Regions from separate parts of the Homo sapiens genome. Here region 1 is linked to region 2. A link means that fine-mapping ties the variant in region 2 to the expression of a gene that starts in the linked region. Tissue or cell type: lung. Region 2 holds a variant in brackets; the other region holds the start of a gene. All regions are shown on one strand. Distances are from middle to middle. Region 1 holds the start of FBLL1 (fibrillarin like 1). Region 2 overlaps RARS1 (arginyl-tRNA synthetase 1).

Region 1 (3,020 bases), 22 kb after region 2:
AGGCAGAAAGAGCTGATGTGCCAGTTGAAAGGCCCTTGGGCAGGAGAATTCTCTCTTCCGTGGGGAAGGTCAGCATTTTGCTTTATTTCTGCCTTCAACTGATTAGATGAGGCCCAGCCACATCGTAGACGGCAATCAGCTTTACTCAATATACCAATTTAAATGTTAATCTCATCAAAAAACACCCTCACAGAAACACTCAGAATACTATTTGACCAAATATCTGGGCATCCCATGGCCCAGTAAAGTTGACACATAAAATTAACCCTCACAGACACCAAGTGTAGTTCATCATTTTGGAAAATATTCACCTTATAGCAAGAATGGAAACCTCTAAGTAGAGTATTTTATGTGAACCATTCAACCTCAGGAATCATACATTTCACTCACTGATCCCTTGTTCACATTCCAGTGTATAAAACTCTGGTCCCCATTAAGGAGACACTCCAGTCCTCAGGGAAAATCAGACCTGGCACTGTCGTCCATGAGTATGAGACGGGAAGAGCTGTGGTCCAGGATGGAACGGAAGTCATACTGCACATACCAGGTGTTCAGTAAATGCTCCGATCTTCAGGTGCGCGTTGTCTCTCTCTCTCTCTCTCTCGAGTAGACACTTAATTCAACTAACGGGAGGCTGGCCAGTTGTTTCACCACCTATCCTACTTTCCCCAGCTCTTGTGTGGTTCCCAAAGCCCCTAGCAGTAGCCAAAACGGGGGCCCCAACTGCTGTCGCTGTCCCTGGTGCTGACTAAACCCTAAAGCCTCTGCGTTGCGGCCTTGGGGCCATTGGTGGTGCCGAGTTATTCTTTTATTTTCTTTCTGTTCTTTTCTTTTTTTCTTTTCTTCTCGTTGCTGCCCTTGGTGCTGCCCAATTATTCTTTTCTTTTCTTCTCCTCTCCCTCTCTCTCTTTTCTTTCTCTCTCTTTCTTTCTTTTTCTCTTTTTCTTTCTTTCCTCAAGAAAATGCTGCAGATTTAGAGAGTGACTTTGAAGCATAGACTAGACTTCGAGGATGAACATGACATTTTGGCTCTCTGTGTATCCCCATTCACACTGAAGAATCAACAACACTTCCTTGCTGATCAATAGTCCCAGAACTGGTGGCACAGCCAGGACCGACGCTGATGCTTACCTCCCCCTCTCCTGCAGCAGAGACGCCCCCGTCCCTGTGGCCCAGGGAAGTGCCAGGGATCCCTGGGAAGGCGGGAGATGGGGAAGGGGCAGGGTGAGCGAAGAGGAGCAGGCTGCGTCTGCACGCGGGCTGGGAAGCGGGGCTTCCGGGCCGCAGGGTCGCGGGGACGGGTGTGATGCAATCGCGCCACAGCCGCTGCGTCAAGGGGCGGCTCCGGGATGCGGGCACTGCGGTAGAGCCCGTCCTGCCCCCGCCGCCCGCCGCCCGCCGCCCGCCTCCGCTGCTAAACCCGCGGACAACCGCCGGGACGACCACCCAGAGCCACCAGAGCCCCCTGACACCCGCCCCGAGGCACCGGTAACCCACGGCACCCGCCCCGGTGCGTGCCATGAAGTCGGCCGCGAGCTCGCGCGGGGGCGGTGGGGGCGGCCGCGGGGGCGGCGGCTGGGGCAGCTGGGGCGGGGGCCGAGGCGGCGGCGGCGGCGCGGGCAAGGGCGGCGGGGGCGACGGCGGCGGCCAGGGGGGCAAGGGCGGCTTCGGGGCGCGGGCGCGCGGCTTCGGCGGGGGCGGCCGGGGCCGGGGGCGCGGCGGCGGCGACGGCAAGGATCGCGGCGGCGGTGGACAGCGGCGGGGCGGCGTGGCCAAGAGCAAGAGCCGCCGCAGGAAGGGCGCCATGGTGGTGTCGGTGGAGCCGCACCGGCACGAGGGCGTCTTCATCTACCGCGGGGCGGAGGACGCGCTGGTCACGCTGAACATGGTGCCGGGCCAGTCTGTGTACGGCGAGAGGCGCGTCACGGTGACCGAGGGCGGCGTGAAGCAGGAGTACCGCACGTGGAACCCGTTCCGCTCTAAGCTGGCCGCGGCCATCCTGGGCGGGGTGGACCAGATCCACATCAAGCCCAAGTCCAAGGTGCTGTACCTGGGCGCCGCGTCGGGCACCACCGTCTCCCATGTCTCCGACATCATTGGCCCAGACGGCCTGGTCTACGCCGTCGAGTTCTCCCACCGCGCCGGCCGCGATCTGGTCAACGTGGCCAAGAAGCGCACCAACATCATTCCGGTCCTGGAGGACGCGCGGCACCCGCTCAAGTACCGCATGCTCATCGGGATGGTGGACGTGATCTTCGCCGACGTGGCCCAGCCGGACCAGTCCCGCATCGTGGCCCTGAACGCCCACACCTTCCTGCGCAATGGGGGCCACTTTCTCATCTCCATCAAGGCCAACTGCATCGACTCCACCGCATCCGCCGAGGCTGTGTTTGCTTCTGAGGTGAGGAAGTTGCAGCAGGAGAACTTGAAGCCTCAAGAGCAGCTGACCCTGGAGCCCTATGAGCGGGACCACGCTGTGGTGGTCGGGGTCTACCGACCTCTTCCCAAGAGCAGCAGCAAATAGCACCCAGCTCAGGCTCGCCTGCCATCTCCCCAAGGCTGCGTTGTGTTTGCTATTATTTTCTGTGTGTTTTCTTTGTGAGTGTTTTGTTTTGTTGTTTTTCTATTAAACTGCATAAAGAAACGGCACCTATCTGTATGGTGATGCCAGGCTAGGTTTTGCTGCAGTAACAATCAACCCCCAAATCCCAGTGGCCTAAACCGGCTGGTATAAGGGGCCCATCCAGCAGTAGCCTGGGAGCTGTGCTCATTCTAATCACTCAGGTCTCCAACTCCCCAGGGCCCCATTTTCACACATGCTCCCCCCATCCCTAGGGCAGAGGAAAGAGAGCTGCGGAATTGCTAATAAAAGCTTTTAAATGTCCCCTTGGAACTGATGGGGCACTTCTGCTCACATTTGGCCAAGTCACATGACCCAGCCTGACTCGGGAAAAACACTGAATGTTGGTGGACAATAATATAGTCAAACACACCAATCATCTGACTCACAGCCAAAGTCT
Region 2 (2,500 bases):
AGCCTTAAGTCTTTTTTTTTTTCTTTAAAGAAGACTAGCAAGTAACTTTCCGTTTCTGTTGTAGTCTGTGCACTTCCAGACAATATTTGCTGCTGCTCAAATGATTGGTTGGTATGACCCTAAAGTAACTCGAGTCTTCCATGCTGGATTTGGTGTGGTGCTAGGGGAAGACAAGTAAGTCTGGAAAATCTGAAGATGGTAATGATATACTTGATCCCAAGAGGCTACTTTTCATTTGATACCATATTAGAATTAAGAAAGTCCACAGTTTCCTTTAGTCCACATAAGCTATAATGGTGTAAACCCAGCTGAGTGATTTTGTATCTATATCATCACTGCCAGGGAATGTAGCCTTTTAGGTAGATAGTATGTACAAAGTTTAGTGAAAACCAGACTGTAGACCTAATAGATTATATATAAGGGGTTTCCTCTCCCACAAATCTAAATTATAAAATCTATTACAGTACCTGCTCAGATTTCAGACACTATTCAACAATATAGCTTATGCATTTGATAAATGTTTTTGTTTTTTCCTTCAAAGTTGAACATAGGCAAAAGGTATAAGTTATTGAGATTCCAATTAAGTTTTAAGATTCACTGGTTTTGTTATGTTCTCTCCAAAAATATTGTTTATTGAGAACTATGTATTTTAATATTCATACTTTCAGCTTTTCTATTTTCTAATTTTTTTATATTCTCAATATTTATAAAATAAAAAGGTAAATACAACCGTGTTTCCATACAGTATTCCTCAATTCAAAGGCACAGCATTTTTCATGTTGTAACCTCCTGTATTCACTGGTGTCTTAGGATCACTTACCAAAAATCTGTGGCATCTTAGATTTGGTAACAAAGCCTAAATATTTCCATCCTACAAACGTGGTCATGCTTCTAAAAAACCACATGAAGTAGCTCAAGATGTTTGGCCAGCCAATGCGCAGAAGCCCTAATTGAACATGTAAAAGGCAGATGAGATGTGTTAAGGTATTATCTTAGATACAGATTATGTGGAGCTCAAAGACCTTGTTGGGAACAACATTTTCTAATTGCGTTTCTTCTCCGTGGATCTGCGCTTTTTTGAAATCAAAAGACACTAGGGGCTAGGCAAAGTGGCTCTCACGCCTGTAATTCCAGCACTTTAGGAAGCCAATGCTGGAGGATTGTGTGAGCCTAGGAGTTTAAGACCAAACTGGGCAAC[A/G]TGGTGAAACCCCATATCTGCCAAAAAAAAAAAAAAAAACTTAGCCAGGCATAGTGGCATGCACCTGTAATCCCAGCTAAGGATTACTTGAGCATCGACGTGGAAGTTACAGTGAGGCGAGATCATATCACTGGGCTCCAGCCTGGGTGACAGAGTGAGACTGTGTCTCAAAAACAAAAAGAATAACTAAGAAGACACTAAGTCCTTATTATAGTGTTTATGGACATAAAGTTTTTTAAAACAAACCAGTAAGTTGATCATTACTTAATAGTATCTTAGTTTCTTAACGGTTGGTTTTTTGGACATTTAGATGATATTCTGACACTTGCTTAAAATTACTAGTGCTCCTATTATGGCATTTAATTCACTTGTCATATAATGGCTAAAGGATTCTTGATAATTTTTAAAATTTTTCTGCACTCAGCAGCATGTAGTTATAGTATCCTATCCCACCCGCCTTTTTTTTTTTTATTTTTTAAATTTTGGGCCAGGCACAGTGTCTCACACCTGTAATCCCAGCACTTTGGGAGGCCGAGGCAGGTGGATCACGAGGTGAGGATTTGAGACCAGCCTGGCCAACATGGTGAAACCCCGTCTCTACTAAAAGTACAAAAATTAGTTGGGCGTGGTGGTGGGCGCCTGTAGTCCCAGTTACTCGGGAGGCTGAGGCAGGAGAATGGTGTAAACCCGGGAGGCGGAGCTTGCAGTGAGCTGAGATTGTGCTACTGCACTCCAGCGTGGGCGACAGAGCAAGACTCTGTCTCAAAAAAAAAAAAAAAAAAAAAAAAATTCTCACAGAGGGGGATGGGACTTAAGAAAAAGGTTTGTTTTCTTTAATGCTCACAGATTCTATTTTTAAATGACATTTTCTGTTTTAATTTTTTGAATGATAATTTTTTTTTAATTTCATCATCTTCCTGCTATTCCTTGTACATCTGTTTATTGAGGATGTGCTGTGCATGGTGTTGGTTGGATGCTCCACAATGTGTATATGCAGGTACACGGAACATGAGCTCCTCTCTGAAAGAGGCTATCATCTAGAGCAGAGCAGTTTCCTGTGGAGCTTGTGAAAATACACATGCAAGCCCCACTGTGGGAGTTACTGACTTATTAGGTCTAAAGGGGGTATTAGGCATCTGTTTTTTTTTTAAAGCTCTCGGTATTCAGATACGCATCCCTCATTGTAGAGCCACTAGTCAGAATAGACCAACACAAAAACAAAAATTCATGGCAGGCGCAGGTAGGGAGTAACTGAAAGGAACAGTAATTGCAAAGTAGATTAAGGAAGGTTTCCTTTAGCAT

Evidence for each region. PIP is the estimated chance that this variant, and not a neighbour inherited with it, causes the effect.
Region 1: FBLL1 starts here. The variant in region 2 is the best candidate, but not a certain one, in a credible set for the expression of FBLL1 in lung (GTEx, PIP 0.53).

Annotation. Positions count from the first base shown.
Region 1 is chr5:168,527,986-168,531,005 of GRCh38, forward strand. It overlaps FBLL1 (fibrillarin like 1), which reads left to right and starts at 1,320. Exons shown (of 1, transcript NM_001355274.2): 1 at 1,320-2,649. The coding sequence starts at 1,520. The coding sequence ends at 2,524. RefSeq lists a silencer at 479-773 and an enhancer at 1,627-2,168.
Region 2 is chr5:168,506,658-168,509,157 of GRCh38, forward strand. RARS1 (arginyl-tRNA synthetase 1) reads left to right here. Exons shown (of 15, transcript NM_002887.4): 11 at 65-174. Among named protein-coding and RNA genes, the nearest start is that of FBLL1, 21 kb to the right of the region's middle. RefSeq lists an enhancer at 1,282-1,451. The variant A/G (reference allele first, on the strand shown) is at 1,199.